Linked DNA regions of Homo sapiens. The protein of the gene in region 1 interacts with the protein of each later gene in a biochemical or structural test. Each region holds a gene or a part of one and is shown on either strand. Other genes may lie near its edges. The genes, in order: DCTN6 and PMEPA1.

The links.
Region 2: the proteins of DCTN6 (region 1) and PMEPA1 form a complex in vitro, tested with the Homo sapiens proteins (one study listed by BioGRID).

Annotation. Positions count from the first base shown.
Region 1 is NC_000008.11:30,151,540-30,160,102, reverse strand, and holds the start of DCTN6 (dynactin subunit 6), read right to left. Parts: upstream 3,735-8,563; 5' UTR 3,720-3,734; coding exon 3,697-3,719; exon of another isoform or gene 3,443-3,696; intron 2,932-3,442; exon of another isoform or gene 2,221-2,931; intron 2,080-2,220; exon of another isoform or gene 1,993-2,079; intron 1-1,992. UniProt on the Homo sapiens protein: Part of the dynactin complex that activates the molecular motor dynein for ultra-processive transport along microtubules.
Region 2 is NC_000020.11:57,657,528-57,665,665, reverse strand, and holds part of PMEPA1 (protein TMEPAI), read left to right. Parts: intron 1-5,968; coding exon 5,969-6,123; intron 6,124-8,138. UniProt on the Homo sapiens protein: Functions as a negative regulator of TGF-beta signaling and thereby probably plays a role in cell proliferation, differentiation, apoptosis, motility, extracellular matrix production and immunosuppression.

The DNA.
Region 1 (8,563 bases):
AACTGGTGCCATCTTGTCCCCTTCCTGGGAAGGGATGATTCCTGATGGAGAGGGAAGCTCAAATTCCAGGGCTCAAAATCAGCTGCTGTGACTCTGCTTCACTTATGCCAGAAAAACAACCAAAACCAGCCTGGGTCACATGGTAAAACCCCATCTCTACAAAAAATACAAAAATTAGCTGGGTATGGTGGCTTACACCTGTACTCCCAGCTACTTGGGGGGCTGAGGCGGGAGGATCGCTTGAGCCCAGGAGGTAGAGGTTGCAGTGAGCTGAGATTGCACCACTGCACTCCAGCCTGGGTGATGGAGTGAAACCCTGTCTCAAAAAAAAAAAAAAAAGAAAACTAATCAAAAGTCTGGAGCTAGGGAGCAAGGTCAAAGCCTCTAGGTTTCTGATCTGGAAAACTAATGGCACCATCTGAGAATAGCCTATGGGAGGAGGGGTAGATTTTAGAGAAAAAAGTCATTTGGCTAAATTTTAGATAAACTCAGTCTGAGGTATCTATGGAATGGTCACCAGATATATCCAATAAGCGACTGAAAATACAGATTCTGAAGCTCATAAGAGAGTTCTAAAAATACAGCTCTGAGAGTCAGAAGGGTAAAGATTCTTTCATTAACATGTCTCTCCATCATTTCTATGCCAGAATCTTCCCCCCAAGTATTCCCTAATATACATGCAAAGTAAGATGAAAACTATTTTTAAGATTGTACCAACTTCCCTACTGGTGTGATGAACTAAAAAAAAAAGAAGACATACACAAATTTTTCTTCCACAAATTAGGGTGGACAAACCTTCACACCGCCATGAATTTTTAAAGCTCTAAGTAAACAAAAAAACATGTATCAAATAGAAAAAACTAATAATCCCTGAGTCTATCTTCAAGAAATGGTTTTGAGAATAGACACAGCTCCAGCTGTTTCCATCATTTTGTTAGGCTCTGACTTTTTATAAGGCGTAAGTCAATGAAATCCTACCAATGGTCCTTCTGGGTGATACAGCCTGTCAAGAGTCAATCTGGGCCAGGTGCAGTGGCTCACGCCTGTAATCCCACCACTTTGGGAGGCCGAGGTGGGCAGATTCCTTGAGGTCAGGAGTTCGAGATCAGCCTGGCCAACATGGTGAAACCCCATCTCTACTAAAAATACAAAAATTAGCCAGGTGTGGTGGTGGGTGCCTGTAGTCCCAGCTACTCTGGAGACTGAGGCAGGATGATCGCTTGAACCCAGGAGGCAAAGGTTGCAGTGAGCAGAGATTGTGCCACTGCACTCCAGCCTAGGCAACAGAGTGAGACTCCGTCTCAAAAAAAAAAAAAAAAAAAAAGGAACCAGGCATGGTGCAAAGCTTTCACTGCACTCCAGCCTGAGCGACTCTGTCTCACAAAAAAAAAAAAAAAAAAAGTCAATCTACTGAAATAACAGAAAATATGTAGCCCTCCTGCTGTATTGAAGAAGAAAGATTTTAGTAAGATTAGAAGAAAATCACCTGGTCTAACCCTCTCATATTATAGAAGAAAAAACTGAAATTCAGAGACTAGAAATTTCTTGGAGCAGAGTTCATTCCTGGGGCATCACTGTCCTGAAATCAGTCATCTGTCTTCTAGTTGAAAGTTTTCTGGAAACATCCTGTCACTCCAGATGTTTTTCCATGATAAATGAGCGACACTGTCCTTGAATGTATCACCAGCTGTAAATGTCATTTCTCTGATACTTTTCATTTAAAGTGGGTTTTTTTTGTTAAAATATGCAATTTTATTAAGCCCTGGTCAAATACATTAGCCTCTATAAAATGTCTCTTGTTTTAGACCTTATTTCTCATTGCAATTTTCCATTTCCTCAGCTTCCTTCTCATTATGAAAAGAGCATTATCTAACATTGAACTTGTCCTGGGCAACTGAGAGTAGGAGAGACTCACAAATGCCCCCTGCCTTCAGTTTTACGCCCAAGGGAGAGATCCCAGGTAATGCTTGCGTCACAATCAGCACACTTCTCAGTGGGGCAGGCCACTAGGCCAACTAAAACGTGGTCCCGATATCTCTGCAAGGACCCCTTGTATCTCGGAGTGGTGGGAGCAGAGAGGTGAGCCGGCAGATGGGAGGGCAAGACTTAACCTCAGATCTGTAAAAGTAACAAGTCAACAATACCTTAATCTTCACTGTAAGCTACTATCTACTGCTATCTACTGCACATAATATTTATAGTACATCTGTTCCTCTTTAGCTTATGAAAAAAGATTACAGAGTATCTACTTAAATGGAAGAAAAATCTACATTTTAATTTATGGCACCAGAAACAATGTCAGTTTTCTTTGTCAAAAATAGTCAGCAGAGGGAGCTCAACACTGCTGCTGTTCGAAATGGCTTTACTTATGCACTTGTCTCATCCCAGCCACCAACAGCCACCAACAGCCCCCAGCAATGAAGACTACCGGAGAAGAAGCCAAACTTCCTGTCCCCACATGTTTACAAAGGAGCTTGTCCACTCCACGCCTGGCAAAAAATGTCACAGTTCTAAGCTTATACACTATTGGTGGGAATATAAATTAGTTCATCTATTGAAAATAGTATGGTGATTTCTCAAAGGACTAAACACAAGTACCATTGGACCCAGCAATCCATATAGAGCTACCAATCCAAACGGAACTACCATTCGACCCAGGATCTACTCAAAGGAAACCATTGTATTAAAAAGACAACTGCACTCCTATGACTATCACTGTACTATTCACAATAGCAAAGTATGGAATCAACCTAAGTGTTCATCAACGGATGACTGGATAAAGGAAATGTGGTGTATCTATACGATGGAATACTACAGAGCCATCAAAAAGAAAGGAAACATGTCTTTTGCAACAACATGGATGGAACTGGAGGCCATTACCTTACGCGATAACTCAGAAATAAAATCAAATGCACATGTTCTCACTTTTAAGTGGGAGCTAAAATGAGTACACATAAACATAAAGAGGGAAATAACAGACACTGGGGACTCTAAAAGCAGCGAGGGTAGGAGGGGTTTGAGGGCTGAAAAATTACCCATCTGATACAATGTTCACTATTTGGGTGGTAAGTACACTAGAAGCCAACTTCACCATTACGCAATTTATCTATGCAACAAATCTGCGCAAGTACTCCTTGCATCTATATAATGTGTGTGTGTGTGTGTCACAGTTCAAGTCCAGGCGCGGCCCCCCTTTTGACAGCGACCGTAAATCCCTTTACACACCCCACCCTCCAGAGACAGGAAGGGCCTGGGGTGCGGCCAGCACTGGCGTGGGGGTCTCGCAACATGCAGCAGAGAATCCAGCGCCAAGCCGTGGGGTACAGCGGCGCCAAGCACCGCCGATTATGCGGGAGAAGGGAGCCGGCCTTCCCCAGGAAAAAGCTGACGTCACCCTCCCCTCACAGCCCCCCCCGCCCTCCCGGCCGGGAGACCCCCTCTGCGCAGGCGCATGTGGGGAGGGACGGCCAGACAGGAACAAAAACCTTCCAGGCAGCGACTCCGCGTCCCTTCTCAACCCTCCCCGCCCCCACTCCGTCGCCCCCTCCCTCAGTGGACGCCAGGTCTGGGCTTCAGGTACCTTCGGCCCGAATGCCCAGGATGAGACACCTTCTGAGTCGCCACCATTGGCGACCAGGAACAGGTTCCACCCCTACGGAAAGCTGAGAAAAGGCTTTTCTCAAGCAGCAAACCCACCTCTTTTGAGTCTTCTCCGCCATGGTACGGCCCCAATTGGAACGTAGATCGACACCACCGCCTGGGTAGAGCGATAATTCCACATGCGATTGGAGAGCCTGGCAGGGTTGGGGGAGGGGCGGAGCCGGGGTGGGGCGGGGACCCGGAAGCTTGCGACTCTTGTTTGCGTCGCGTCTGGGCGCACAGGACTGTACTTTTGGTAGCGGTGCGGGGCCGCCCGCGGACTTTAGCCCTGCATAGAGATGGGTAGACCCTAATTTGGAACAGCCATTGACTGGGCACAGGCCAGCACTTTGGGAGGCCGAGAGGCCGAGGCAGGAGGATCGCTTGAGGCCAGGAGTGCCAGACTGCGAGACTAGCCTGGGTAACATAGTGAGACCCTCTCTTCAAAAAAAAAAAAAAAAAAAAAAAAAAAAAGCCTGTCACGGTGGCCTGCGCCTGTACCCCAGCTACTCGAGAGGATCGCCTGAGCCCAGTGAAGCTGCAGCGAGCTGTGAGGATGCCACCGCACTCCGGCCTGGGCTAAAAAGCTAGATCGTGTCTCTGATAAAAGAATAAAAGCTGTTTATTGCAATCCAGTCCGCGTCATTATGCCCTCATTTTACCCACTCGCGTAGGCGTAATTACACCCTAAAGGTATTTCTCTGACCTCGCCGATGTCCTTTTCAGCCTGTCTTTCTCTACTCATTAGGGCTCCTTCTGGCCCTTTTCTCGCTCTATATGAGTGCATCCTTCCTATAGGTTAAGTGCCCTCTACCTGTTTGCTCTCTAATGAATGTCTCTGGTTCTGCCCTCTGTGCCGATCTTCACACCTGACATTCGGTTGACTAATTGACATCTCCGCTCAGAGTCGTATCGAACCTAAAACTTACAGAACATGACTTTCGATTAACACTGCCGTCCTCCCTGCAACCTGCTGCTTTTTTGATCCACACCATTTGCCTAGCTGCTCAAGCCAGACACTCAAGAGTCACCCTGGCACTCCTCACCCCTACATCTGTAATAGATCTGCAAGTTCTGCTTGTCCTACCTCGGGTCTCATGCTTACACTTTTGTCTACCGGACCATCTCTCTAATCTCAGCCGATGTGTCTCTCCCAGTTGTTCACTCATTCTGTACTTGGCCTCTGAAATCACACCTCCTCATCTCCCACCCCCAACCCTGATCCAAGTAGTTCTCTTGTAGTCAAAATCATCCTTTAAAAGACAAATTGAGGCCAGGCGCGTGGCTCAAACCGGTAATCCCAGCACTTTGGGGGGCCGAGATGGGAGGATCGCTTGAGGCCAGGAGTTGGAGACCAGCCTGGTCAACACAGCATGATCCCGTCTCTATATATTTTTTCTATAATGTATTTTTTTAATGGAAAAAAATTAAAAATAAGAGCCAAATTCAGTTATTTCCCCTTCCTCTTAAAATCTAAAATCCAAACTGCTTTCCATAACCTATCTCTGAGCTACATCCAGCCCCTGCCTACTTCTCTCTTTCTCTTTCTATGTGTTCGATCACACCCTCATTCTCCAAAAAAGCAAAGCTGACTCTCCACCCCCAACCGCTTCCACTTGCCCCCACCCTAACACCTTCTGACCCTTTATGTCTCGGATGTCACATACTCAGTTTCCAACCAGAGAAACAGAACTAGTAGTAGATGGATATCAAAAGGCTTATTGTAAGGAATTGGCTTACATGATTGTGGAGCCCCAGCTAAGCAAGTCCAAAATCTGTACACTAAGCTGGAACTCTCATGCAAGGGGTGAGGCTGTTGTTCACAGGAGGAATTTCTTCAGGGAAGCCCATCTCAGCTCTTATGGCCTTCAACTGATTGAATCAGGCCCACCCAGATTAGCTAGGATAATCTCTCTTCCTTAAAGTGAACTGATGATGGGCTTTAATCACATCCACAAAAATACCTTTACAGCAGCATCTAGATTAGTGTTTGACTAATGACTTGGGAATGTAGCCTAACCAAGTTGACACAAAAAACTGACCATCACACTCAGGGAAACCCTCCTTGACTGTCTTAGTTCTTTCTGGCTGCTATAACAAAATACAGTTGGCCCTTTGTATCTGTGGGTTTGACATCTGTGACTGGTTGACAGCAACCCACGTTGGATCAAAAATTTGGGGGAAAAAATTACGCAAGTTTCCAAAAAGCAAAACTTGAATTTGCTGCATGCCAAGTGCTACATTGAAGCCACATGAATGAAGTGATATGTAGGAATTGTATTAGATATTCTGAATAATATAAAGATGATTGAAAGGATATGGGAGGATATGCATCAGTTAGTTATATGCAAATACTACACCATTTTATATCAGGGGCTTGAGCATCTGCAGATTTTGGCATCAGGGTGTCCAGGAACCAGTTCCCCAAGCATACTGAGGGACAGTTATACCTTAGACTGGGTATAGTAGTCCTTTCTTATCCTCGGGGGATACATTCCAAGACCTCTAGTGGATGCCTGAAACCACAGATAATACTGAACCCTCTATATACTATGCACACATTTCCTTTTCCTCATTAACAGTTTCATGGGTAAAAGATTTATTCTTACCATAGATCTTAGCAACCTCAGCATATAGTTTTTTTTCTTTCCTTTTGAAATCAAGAAGTTTTCACATTTTCACTTAAAGCATTTTACAGTTTCTCTTTGGCAGATCCAAATCACCTGCATCGCTACTTTTGTGCTTTGGGGCCATTATGAAGTAAAATAAGAGTGACTTGAACACAAGTACTCTGATACTGCAACAATGTATCTGATAACTGAGAAAGCTTTAATGGGCAGGTAGTACCAACAGTGTGGATACAAAGGGATGATTCATGTTCTTGCCTAGAGAGAGCAGCATGGTACGAGAGTTCATCATGCTACTCAAAATGGTGTGCAATTTAAAACTCACAAATTGTTTATTTCTGGAATTTTCTATTTAATATTTTTGGACTGATGTTGACTACAGGTTACTGAAACCACAGAAGATGAAACCATGGATAAGTGCGACTACTGTTATTTATAAACAAAGACATTTATTGCTCACAGTCCTAGAGGCTGGGGAGTCCAAGATCAAAGCGCTGGACATTCTGTGTCTGATGAGAGCCCTCATCACCTAATCACCTCCCAAATGTCCCACCTCTTAATTGCCAAGTAGTCAATAAAATATCAGATGTGAGGCTCGGCAGAGAGGACAGAACCTTGAAGGTATTATTTCAACATATGAATTCTGGAGGGACAAAAACATTCAGACCATAGCACCATCTAATCAAAAATAGGCTACCCTTCCTATTCTAATTATTTTCTCTGTGGGGTAAGGATTGCACTCATCACCAGCTATACTTACTTATCTTACCATTTCCTCCAAAGACTTAAGTTCCATGAAGTTAGAGCCATGTGAGTTTTGTTCCCACTCTTTACTCAGCACCAACCACAGTGCCTGGTGCATGGTTGATATTCCTCTAAACTTGTTGAATAAGTATATGAATGAATTTAGAGTGTTTTGTCACTGCCAACCATGTAAACACCTATCCATTTTCAAGCAATGTGTATTTATATTAATTTGAAAGACTTCTATGGCATACTTATAAAGGATCATTTTATCAGTATTAGGTACAGTGTCTAGGGCCTATAGGCTTTTTGGGGATCAACGAACTGTTTGAAACCTGAAAATAAAATGTACTGATTCCAGAATGTAAACCGTACAGGTAGGAATTAATTAATGCTAAGGCCAGGCACAGTGGCTCACGCCTGTAACCCCAGTTCTTTGGGAAGCTGAGGCAGGTGGATTGTTTGAGTTAGGAGTTCGAGACTAGCCTGGGCAACATGGCAAAACTCTGTCTCTACAAAAAATACAAAAATTAGCGAGGCATGGTGGCACGTGCCTGTAGCCCCAGCTACTTGGGGCCTGAGGTGGGAGGATCACTTGAGTCCGGGAGGTCAAAGTTGCAATGAGCCAAGATCATGCCAGTGCACTCCAGCCTGGGCAACAGAGCAAGAGCCTGTCTCGATAATAAAATAAATAAATGCACACATACTTTTTTTTTTTTTTTGAGATGGAGTTTCACTCTTGTTGCCCAGGCTGGAGTGCAATGGCGTGATCTCGGCTCACTGCAACCTCCACCTCCTGGATTCAGGTGATTCTCCTGCCTCAGCCTTCTGAGTAGCTGGAATTATAGGCACCTGCCACCATGCCTGGCCTTTTTTTTTTTTTTTTTTTTTTTTTTTTTTGGATTTTTATTAGAGACAGAGTTTCACCATGTTGGCCAGGCTGGTCTTGAACTCTTGACCTCAGGTGATCCACCTGCCTCTGCCTCCCAAAGTGCTGGGATTACAGGCATGAGTCACTGTGTCCAAACCCACACGTACATACTTAATTCAATGTCTACAAAGCAACTTTTTTCTTAACTAATCAACTGCAATTCAACTCTTCTATACCTAGAAATTATATTTGATGTGGGATTTGGTTTCATTCAATATGTTTAATATGATGTTATCTTATTTAGTTCCTTAGGGAGCCCTCTTCTTCCCTGTTGGGAATAGGCCCCCAAAATCTGGTCATAAACTGGCCCCAAAACTGGCCATAAACAAAATATCTGCAACACTGTGACATGTTCGTGATGGCCATGACGCCCACGCTGGAAGATTGTGGGTTTACCAGAATGAGGGCAAGGAACACCTGGCCCACCCAGAGCAGAAAACCCCTTAAAGGTGTTCTTAAACCACAAACAATAGCATGAGCGATCTGTGCCTTAAGGACATGCTCCTGCTGCAGATAACTAGCCAAACCCATTCCTTTATTTCAGCCCATCCCTTTATTTCCCGTAAGGAATATCTTTAGTTAATCTATAGAAACAATGCTTATCACTGGCTTGCTGTCAGTA
Region 2 (8,138 bases), on another chromosome or scaffold:
GGACCATCAGGGGAACGAGGGATGCTTTTTGTCCCCAGAGGAGTGTCAGTAATTGTGACAATGGTGACAGTTGAGTGTGCTACGTTCTGTCCCGTTCTGAGCTCTCGCATCCATTATTTCACCCCTGCCCCGGTTGGTTCTTTTTTTTTTTTTTTTTTGACAGATGAGGTAACTTCCTCTCAAGGAGGTAGATGCGCACAGCATCACACAGACAATGGATGCACGAGGACTGGACCAGAACATCAGAACCACATCCTCAGATTCCCGGGGCAGGGGGCGGGCGGACTAACGCCGTGGGCGAGCTAGGAAAATTTAGCAGGAGAATGAAACCCTTCCCCCTTTTGAGTTCCTATATGGCGGCTCTGGGCTCAAGTCTCAACCTTGCTCCTAGTTGCATCTTCTAGGGCTACTTCTCCCTAAGCCTCAGTTTCTTCATCTGCAAAATGGGCATGGTGATGTTACCTAAATTGGGGAGGCTCAGCTCAGTGGCCCCGGGTCATGTGTTAGAATCATGACAATACTTACAGTGACTACAGTGAGTTTGGGTGTGCCCTCTCCTGCTCTGTCCCCTGTGGCCTATGACTGCTTGGCAATGTGTCCTGTGGTCACAGCAGAGTTGAGCCTAGGTCAGGGACAGTGGTAGGACCCACCCCTGCAGGTGTCATACTGGGCATTTGATCTGGGATGTCTTTGTCCATGCCTTGGTAAAGGGGCAGTCTGTCAGATTAGGGAAACTGAGGCAGGATTGGTGTGGCTCCATATCTGCCAGTAGTCACTAAGTGACCTGGGGCCCAACTCTTGGCCAGAAGTCCTGAAGCCGCCTGCCCTGCAGATGCCTTGGGTGTGGCCTGCTTGGCCCTTTTAAAACTCTTAAATGAGGTTCCAGCCTTAAAGGACCACAGCTTCACAGCCGGCTCCAGGGTCCTCTGGAGAGAGGGAGGGATGCGGCCGCGCTGGGCCTTCTCTCCTTCCGCCTCGCGTTGGCAGTCCTGCTGGGGTTCCTTCCCTTGCCCGCGAGGCATCTGATCCTGAGAGTCCGGCTCTCAAGCTGCGACTGGGAATGGGCCCCAGCAGCCTCCCTGCGCTCCTCGGAACAAATGCAGGCACGAAGAGGATTCTGCGAGCTGCCGCGGGTGGAGAGCCGTGTTTATATTGGTGCCGCTTCATACACACATCATGTTTTGAACTTGACTCCAAGGCCTTTGCGGGGAGGCACCTTTCTCTCCCCCAAGGGGTCTTTGCTGGTGGATTCACGGTGCCTGCCCAGAGGGATGTGTGGGACTTAGTGTGGGGAGGGAGCCCATGCTTGATGAACTCGGCCTGAGTGGGCCCTGATCAGTGCGTCGTAGAGGCCCGCATGCTGAGTCTCAGGCATCCCTGGGGTGGTGTGGGGTGGGGACCGACAGTGTCAGGGCGTGGCTGTCCCAGGCCAGGTGAGTCCCGGGACCAGGCCTGTGGAGAGGGTGGCTGCCCACAGCCCTGCTCCCGTGATGCCAGGTGGGAACACGGCTGGGGCCAGGGACGGTCGGTGCGCGTGCCCTTGGGTCTCTGGTTTGCGACCGACCTCGCCAGCAGGCACTGCATGGTCCACTCCCCAGAGAATGCATTCCTGTCCCCTAAAGCTGAGCGTCTCCTGGAAGCAGCACCATGGGTGTGAAAGTGCGTGGAAGGTGCCTCCTCACCCCATGCCCAAGGGTGGTCTTCGTTGGACCTGTTTGTGGGCCCCAATGCTGCTGTGCCTGACCAGCCTTCCTCCCGCACAGCATCCGCGCCGGTGGGGCTTGACTGGAGCTGGATGGAGATTTCGGGGCCTCCTTGGCCCAGGGTGTTGCCTTCCTGATGGGTGGGGGTGACCCGGCTGCTGGCTGGAGCACCTCTCTTGCCCCCCTCAACACCTCCAGGTCTGGGCATGTCCAGGGGCATCCAGGAGGGTCTGGGTTCCGGCCTCTGCTCACCTATACCCTCTGCCTGTGCTCCACTCTGCCCCGCACTCCGTGCCCTGCACCAAAAGCCTCAGTGCCCACCTTACAGGGAGCCCTCCAGGGTCTTCCATTAGATGCTCCCTCTGCGATTCCAGAGCAGGTCATGTCTCTTTGAGGGTGGATGGGTTTGGGCCACCCTTGTTCTGGTGGAGCCAGGATGGAATTGAGCATCCCGTGTCTGGGTCCACCTCCAGGGAGCACTACATGCTGAGCACATGTCCCCCGCACATCCTGCTGCCCACTGTCCCCCTGCTGCCCACCGTCCCCCCGCTGACACAGGGAGACTGCGATGGACTCAGAGAGGGCCCCCAAGAGCCAGGCTGGGACCCGGGCCCTCTGAGAGAGCCACTGTGCTTCCCTGCCACCACCCTGCTCCTCTCCAGGGTGCTCCTGAGCCGTAGTCTCGGCAACCCTTGCAAATCTCCATCTCCCTAAGCCTGGACCCAGGCCCTTGGCTCACCAAGTCTAGCCAGCAGTCAGTTGTAGTTTCTCTTTTCTAGAGAGTTTTTCTCTCTCCTCTCCCATGTGAATTTTCCTGGGCCAGTGACCCAATGGGAGTTGGTGGCCCAGGGACCAGGGTGACGCTCTTATGCGCTACTGAGCCCGGTGCTCATTTCTGGGAGCGTTTTTCTCACTCTGTGGATACAGACGTCCAAAAGTCAGATCCCCCTGCCCCTGGGGCCGAGCCTGGCGGGGCCAGGAGAGCCGTGAGGGTTTGTCCACACCCATTCAGTCTGCAGGGGCCTCCTCCATTGCCCCTGCATCCCACCGGCCCTGCAGCCCCAGCTACCGTCTCACTGCTGTCTGGGTCCTGCGGGCTGCCAGGGCCCGGGACAGGGACAAAAACAGCCACACACCTCCCTCCCTCCAGGGCTGATGTGGGCTGGGCCCCTGGAGACAGCTGGGGAAGGGGGAACTGGGGTGAAGAGTGCACAGGGTTGGGGGGCAGGGAATTGCAGGCCCCGGGGGTGGGGGGGCGTGGGTGTTACACAAAGCCAGCCCTGTGTGTACCCTGAATGCGGCTTTATCCTGAGTGCTAACAGACGGACCTGGGCCCTACAGAATCAGGCCAGGCTGCCCCGGCCCTGGACCTGCCTGTCTGGGGAGACAGGAGGTGTGGCCACAGCGACCTGGGTCTGAAGCCTGATCTCTCCTGGCCAGGAACATGCGGGTGTCCCACAGGCGGCCCAGGGCTTGGGGCCTGAGTTCCCAGCAGGCAGGGCCGAAGCCTTCTCGGGGCTTGGGAAAGCCCCACCAAGCCTAGTGGGAGGACGCGCCAGCTCTAGGGTCTTGGACTTCTCGAGGCAATCACTTTTCCCTCTGAGCCCGTGTCTCCTCACCCGTGAAATGGGGATGATAATAAAAACGCCCGTTCTTAGGTGTGCTCAGCCCACAGCATGACCGACTGGATTGGATCATTCTTTGTCATGGGGGACAGTCCTGTCGGTGCAGGACGGTTACCACAGCCCCTGGCCTCCACCCACTCCATGCCAGGAGTACCCCCCAGTTGTGACAACCAAAAATGGCTCCAGACATCGCCACATGTTCCCTGGGTGCAGACGTGGCCCCAGCTGAGAAACACTGGCTCATTAGCAGTGTAGACAATGGCGCGCTGAGCCCTGGGTGCAGATGCGGCCCCAGCTGAGAAACACGGGCTCAGTAGCAGTGTAGACAGTGGCACGCTGAGCCCTGGGTGCAGACGCGGCCCCAGCTGAGAAACACTGGCTCAGTAGCAGTGTAGACAATGGCGCGCTGAGGGTGGCACAGATGCATAAAGTGCCCGAGACGGGGAAGTTCTGGAAAACCTGTTGGGGAAGAAGGAGTGGCAGTGGACACAGGTGTGGGAGTGCTTCTGTGTGGAGAGGCGTCTGCCACTTCACAGACAGTGACATTCCCACCTAGGATGGGCTGCTTTCCTGCCTTGGGGAGAGCGAGGCTGGTGGCAGGAGATGGCTGGGCCCCCCGGGTTTGGAGTGTGCTTGCCTGGGCTGTCTGATGGCCCGAGCGCCTGGCATCGGCTCTGCACGGCCTGTTTTTTCTCCAGTTGCCACCTGACACCTGCCCACCCCGATCCCCCTCCCCCGGCTTTGGTTCCTCGGTCCTGGGAGGAGGAGGAACTGAGTCAGTGGCACTGGGCTTGAACTGGGGCCCCCAGGGAGCCTGGCTAATTGCTTGTTAGTGCCAGGGAGCCCTGGGGAGTCCTCCTTGCCCCCATGCCAGCCGGGGTCTGGGGAGTCACATTCCTGCACACCTTGGGCAGGGTGTCCTGGGCAGGGCGAAGCTGGAGGAGCTTTGGCCCCGGACGCTGCCGGCTGGTGCCCACTCTGCCGTGTCAACTCCAAGGGACCCGGCGTCTTGCCCATTGCTGGGGGCTCTGCTGGCACCGTGCTCGGCCAGCTGCCGAGGCCGCTTCGGCACAGACCCGCTTGAGTCAGCAGAAACTGCCCGGCTCAGGCAGGATCAAAATAACCTTCTTCCTATTCCAGCACTTGAGGGTTTTTCCGCCTTCTAGGGGAAAAACAAATCAAAAACCAAAAAAGAAAAAACAAAAAAACCCAACCTTAGAAAATGCGAATGGCAACATCCGCAGCCATCTGGAATGTGGGTTTTCTGAGGCCTTTTCACCAAGAGGAGGGTCCTGACACCCCCGTCCTGTTGAGCGTGGCGTGTGTTTGTGAGTCCTGGGATGGATGTGTGTGTGTGGGCACGTGTGGTGCGCTGTGTCTGTGTGTGTTTGTGTCTGTTGGGAAGTGTGTGTTGGGATGTTGACTTGGGTGTGGGACTGTTGAGGGGTGTGTGTTGGGGTGTTGATATGTGTGTAGGAGTGTTGGGTCGTGTGTTGGTGTTGACGTGTGTGTAGGAGTGTTGGAGTATGTAGTGTTGTTGACGTGTGTGTAGGAGTGTTGGGGTGTTGTGTGTGGAGGAGTGTTGGGGTGTTGTGTGTGTAGGAGTGTTAGGGGTACGTGTTGGGGTGTTATTTGTGTAGGAGTGTTGGGTCATGTGTTGGTGTTGATGTGTGTGTAGGAGTGTTGGAGTATGTAGTGTTGGGGTGTTGTGTGTGTAGGAGTGTTAGGGGTACGTGTTGGGGTGTTATTTGTGTAGGAGTGTTGGGTCATGTGTTGGTGTTGACGTGTGTGTAGGAGTGTTGGAGTATGTAGCGTTGTTGACGTGTGTGTAGGAGTGTTGGGGTGTTGTGTGTGTAGGAGTGTTGGGGTGTTTTGTGTGTAGGAGTGTTAGGGGTACGTGTTGGGGTGTTATTTGTGTAGGAGTGTTGGGTGTGTGTTGGTGTTGACGTGTACTTAGGAGCGTTGTGTGTGTAGGAGTGTTGGGGCATTTGTGTTGGTGTTGTGTGTGTAGGAGTGTTGGTGTGTTGACATATGTGTAGGAGTGTCAGGTGTGCATAGGTTTGTGTACACACGTTCACATGTAGCTCCTCTTTGTTTAATTCCACAAAGCTTCACTCCCAAACTCAGTGCCAACTTCCTCTCTCCGCACTCAGGGGTCCCCTTCTCCTCCCAACTGCTCCCTCCCTGGGCCCCTAAGAAGGGTCTGTGACCGTCTGCCCGAGCCTTTGCCCAGCGACAGGAGCCAGTGCGCAGGGCTCCCTTTCTGCCAGTCAGCTCACGCTGTGCATCTGCAGAACGGCTCCAGGAGGCTCTGAGAGCAGAGAGCAGGGCCTTCCTCCTGCCTGTCCCGTTACCTCCTTCCGGTCAGTCCCTACAGAGGGGGTGTCTGGGTCCCAGGACACCTTTGAGGTGCTCTCCCAGCCAGCAGTACCCCCTCCTCCGCCGTGAGAGCAGCTTCCCTGCACGTACCCCAGCCCCAGGCATCGCCTGTGACCTTGCCGGGAGAGTGGCGGGGGCTTTCCTGAGTCTGGGTTGCACTCTCGTCCCCCTAGGTGGGTGAAAAAGCTCAAAAGGGCTGAGCCCTGAGCACAGCGACCTGCAGGTGTCCAGGGTCTCACGTGTCCCTCTTTGTCTCCACAGCGGAGCTGGAGTTTGTTCAGATCATCATCATCGTGGTGGTGATGATGGTGATGGTGGTGGTGATCACGTGCCTGCTGAGCCACTACAAGCTGTCTGCACGGTCCTTCATCAGCCGGCACAGCCAGGGGCGGAGGAGAGAAGATGCCCTGTCCTCAGTAAGTGCCCCGCCATCCCATCTGTGGCCTGAGGGTGCGGCAGTGGGACGCCCCTTGTAAAAACTCAGACGGGATCCAATGGCAGCGTTTGCAGGAAACAGATTCAGGGCAGGAAGACAGGGGCTGGGGAGCCCACCTGACAGCAGCTTCCTCCCCTGAAATGGGAGGAAAGCACCCGCCAGGCGGGCCTCAGAGATGCTGGAGGAACGTGGGGAATGAAGAGCTGGGCTGGGAAGAGGCTTCGTGATCCACTCACGCACTCAGCTGACTCTCGAGCAGCCTCGGGTCGCAGGCTCTGTGCAGGGCCTGGGGAGAGGGCAGCACACAGGTCCTTGCTGTCATGGAGCTGACGTTCCAGGAGGGAGATGAGACGCCCAGTGGTGATAGCGCCATGCAGGAGATGCGACCACTGGGACCTGGGGGAGCCTCTGCGAGGAACCCTCGGCTAGGGAGGCAGGGCTGGGCTCACAAGCAGCGCAAGCTGACCCCCGTCTTGACCCACATCTCTCGAGGCTGAGTGGAGACAGACCTAGAGAGATGAGGCTGAAAGCAGGGAGGCACCTGGGGCAGGCAGCACAGGAAGGCATTCTGGGTCCACACAGAGGCCTGACACAACAGGATGGTGGAGACGAGGGGCCGGCATTTGGCTCTTACCCACCGGGGTAGTGGTGGGAAAGGTGCCTGCAGTCCTGCAGCCCTGACCCAGACGGAAGGGAGGTGGCGGCCCTGCCCTCGTGCCCGTGCTATGCTGACATCTGGTCATGTGGTCACAATGCCTTGGAGAGCCATAGAGGCAACAGGACACCAGGTCCCGGGGCCTAAGTTTAATCCCATCTCCACCAGTACTGGCCACGTGCCCTCAGACCTGTCCCTGATCTACAAAATGGGGCTTCAGATCCCCCATTTGTAAAATGGGCTGACAGTCACATCCACCTCCCCAGAGATTCAGGGCTTTAGCACAGAGCACGGGTCTGGTCATTACTGGCTATAAAAGCACTTCCATCCATCCATCCATCCACCTGACAGATCTCTACCCAGCACACACACGGGGTATGCAAAATTCCCCCTGCGTTTGGGAAGTGGCTGTGAGCCAGTCCCAGGGGGTGCTGCTGGTGAGTTGGATGGGCGCAGACAGGAGCAGGTGCACGGATGAAGGAAGCCGAGGGCCGTGGCCAGGAAGTTGGGGCGAGCTGCTCTTGAGGCCGTGCTGTGCAGGACCAGGTGAAGTGGGCGCGGGAGTGTGAGGAGGACAGAGCCCTGCAGGAGGGACCCCGCTCTCCATTACAGTCCTGGGTGTTGATCTCTCAGAGTTGTGAGCATTGGTGGGTGTTCTGGAAACCCCAAGAATTTCCCTTTCGAATCTCCACAAAGTCAGGGGCAAACAGGGCAGATCTGGGTCGGTGGGAACTTGCCCGCCTCTGACGGTGAACTCCCGGCTCCATGTCGGCCGCCTGAAGCCCGGCTGTTCGGTATCCTTCAGCAGGTGGACCAAAGGGCGGCACAGAGTTAATCTCTTAATGGCTTCCATCTCTGCACCCAGGATGTGTAACTCAACCACGTGGGGCAGGAAGCGGCTGTTTAAAGAGCAGGCTGGGAACTGTGGGGAGGAGGTGGCACGTGGCCAGCCCTGGGGCTGCGGCACGTCTCTGAGCCGGGGCTCACCAGGTGTGGGGAGGACTCACAGAACAGGCAGCACTGAGTGTGGCCTCCCCACTTCTGGGGACGCCTGGGGTTGGTGGTGGCGCCCAGAGTCCCTGGGCTGAGCCAAGTCAGCTGAGAAGCCTGTTGGCCACAGTCCCTAGCCGGAAGGCCTGTCCCTGGCAGGTCTGGACACCTCTGCTTGCATCAGGCCCCAGCCTCAGTGCGTCACCAGGTTGCCAGGGCAAGGAGCATCAGCCCTGGGACCTCTGATGGGAATGCCTGGCCCACAGACCCGGGGCCCACTGTGCGTCCCAGCACGCTGTCCGGAGGGCGTGCTGCAGACCTGCTGCTCTCAAGCCCCGACGTGTTTATTT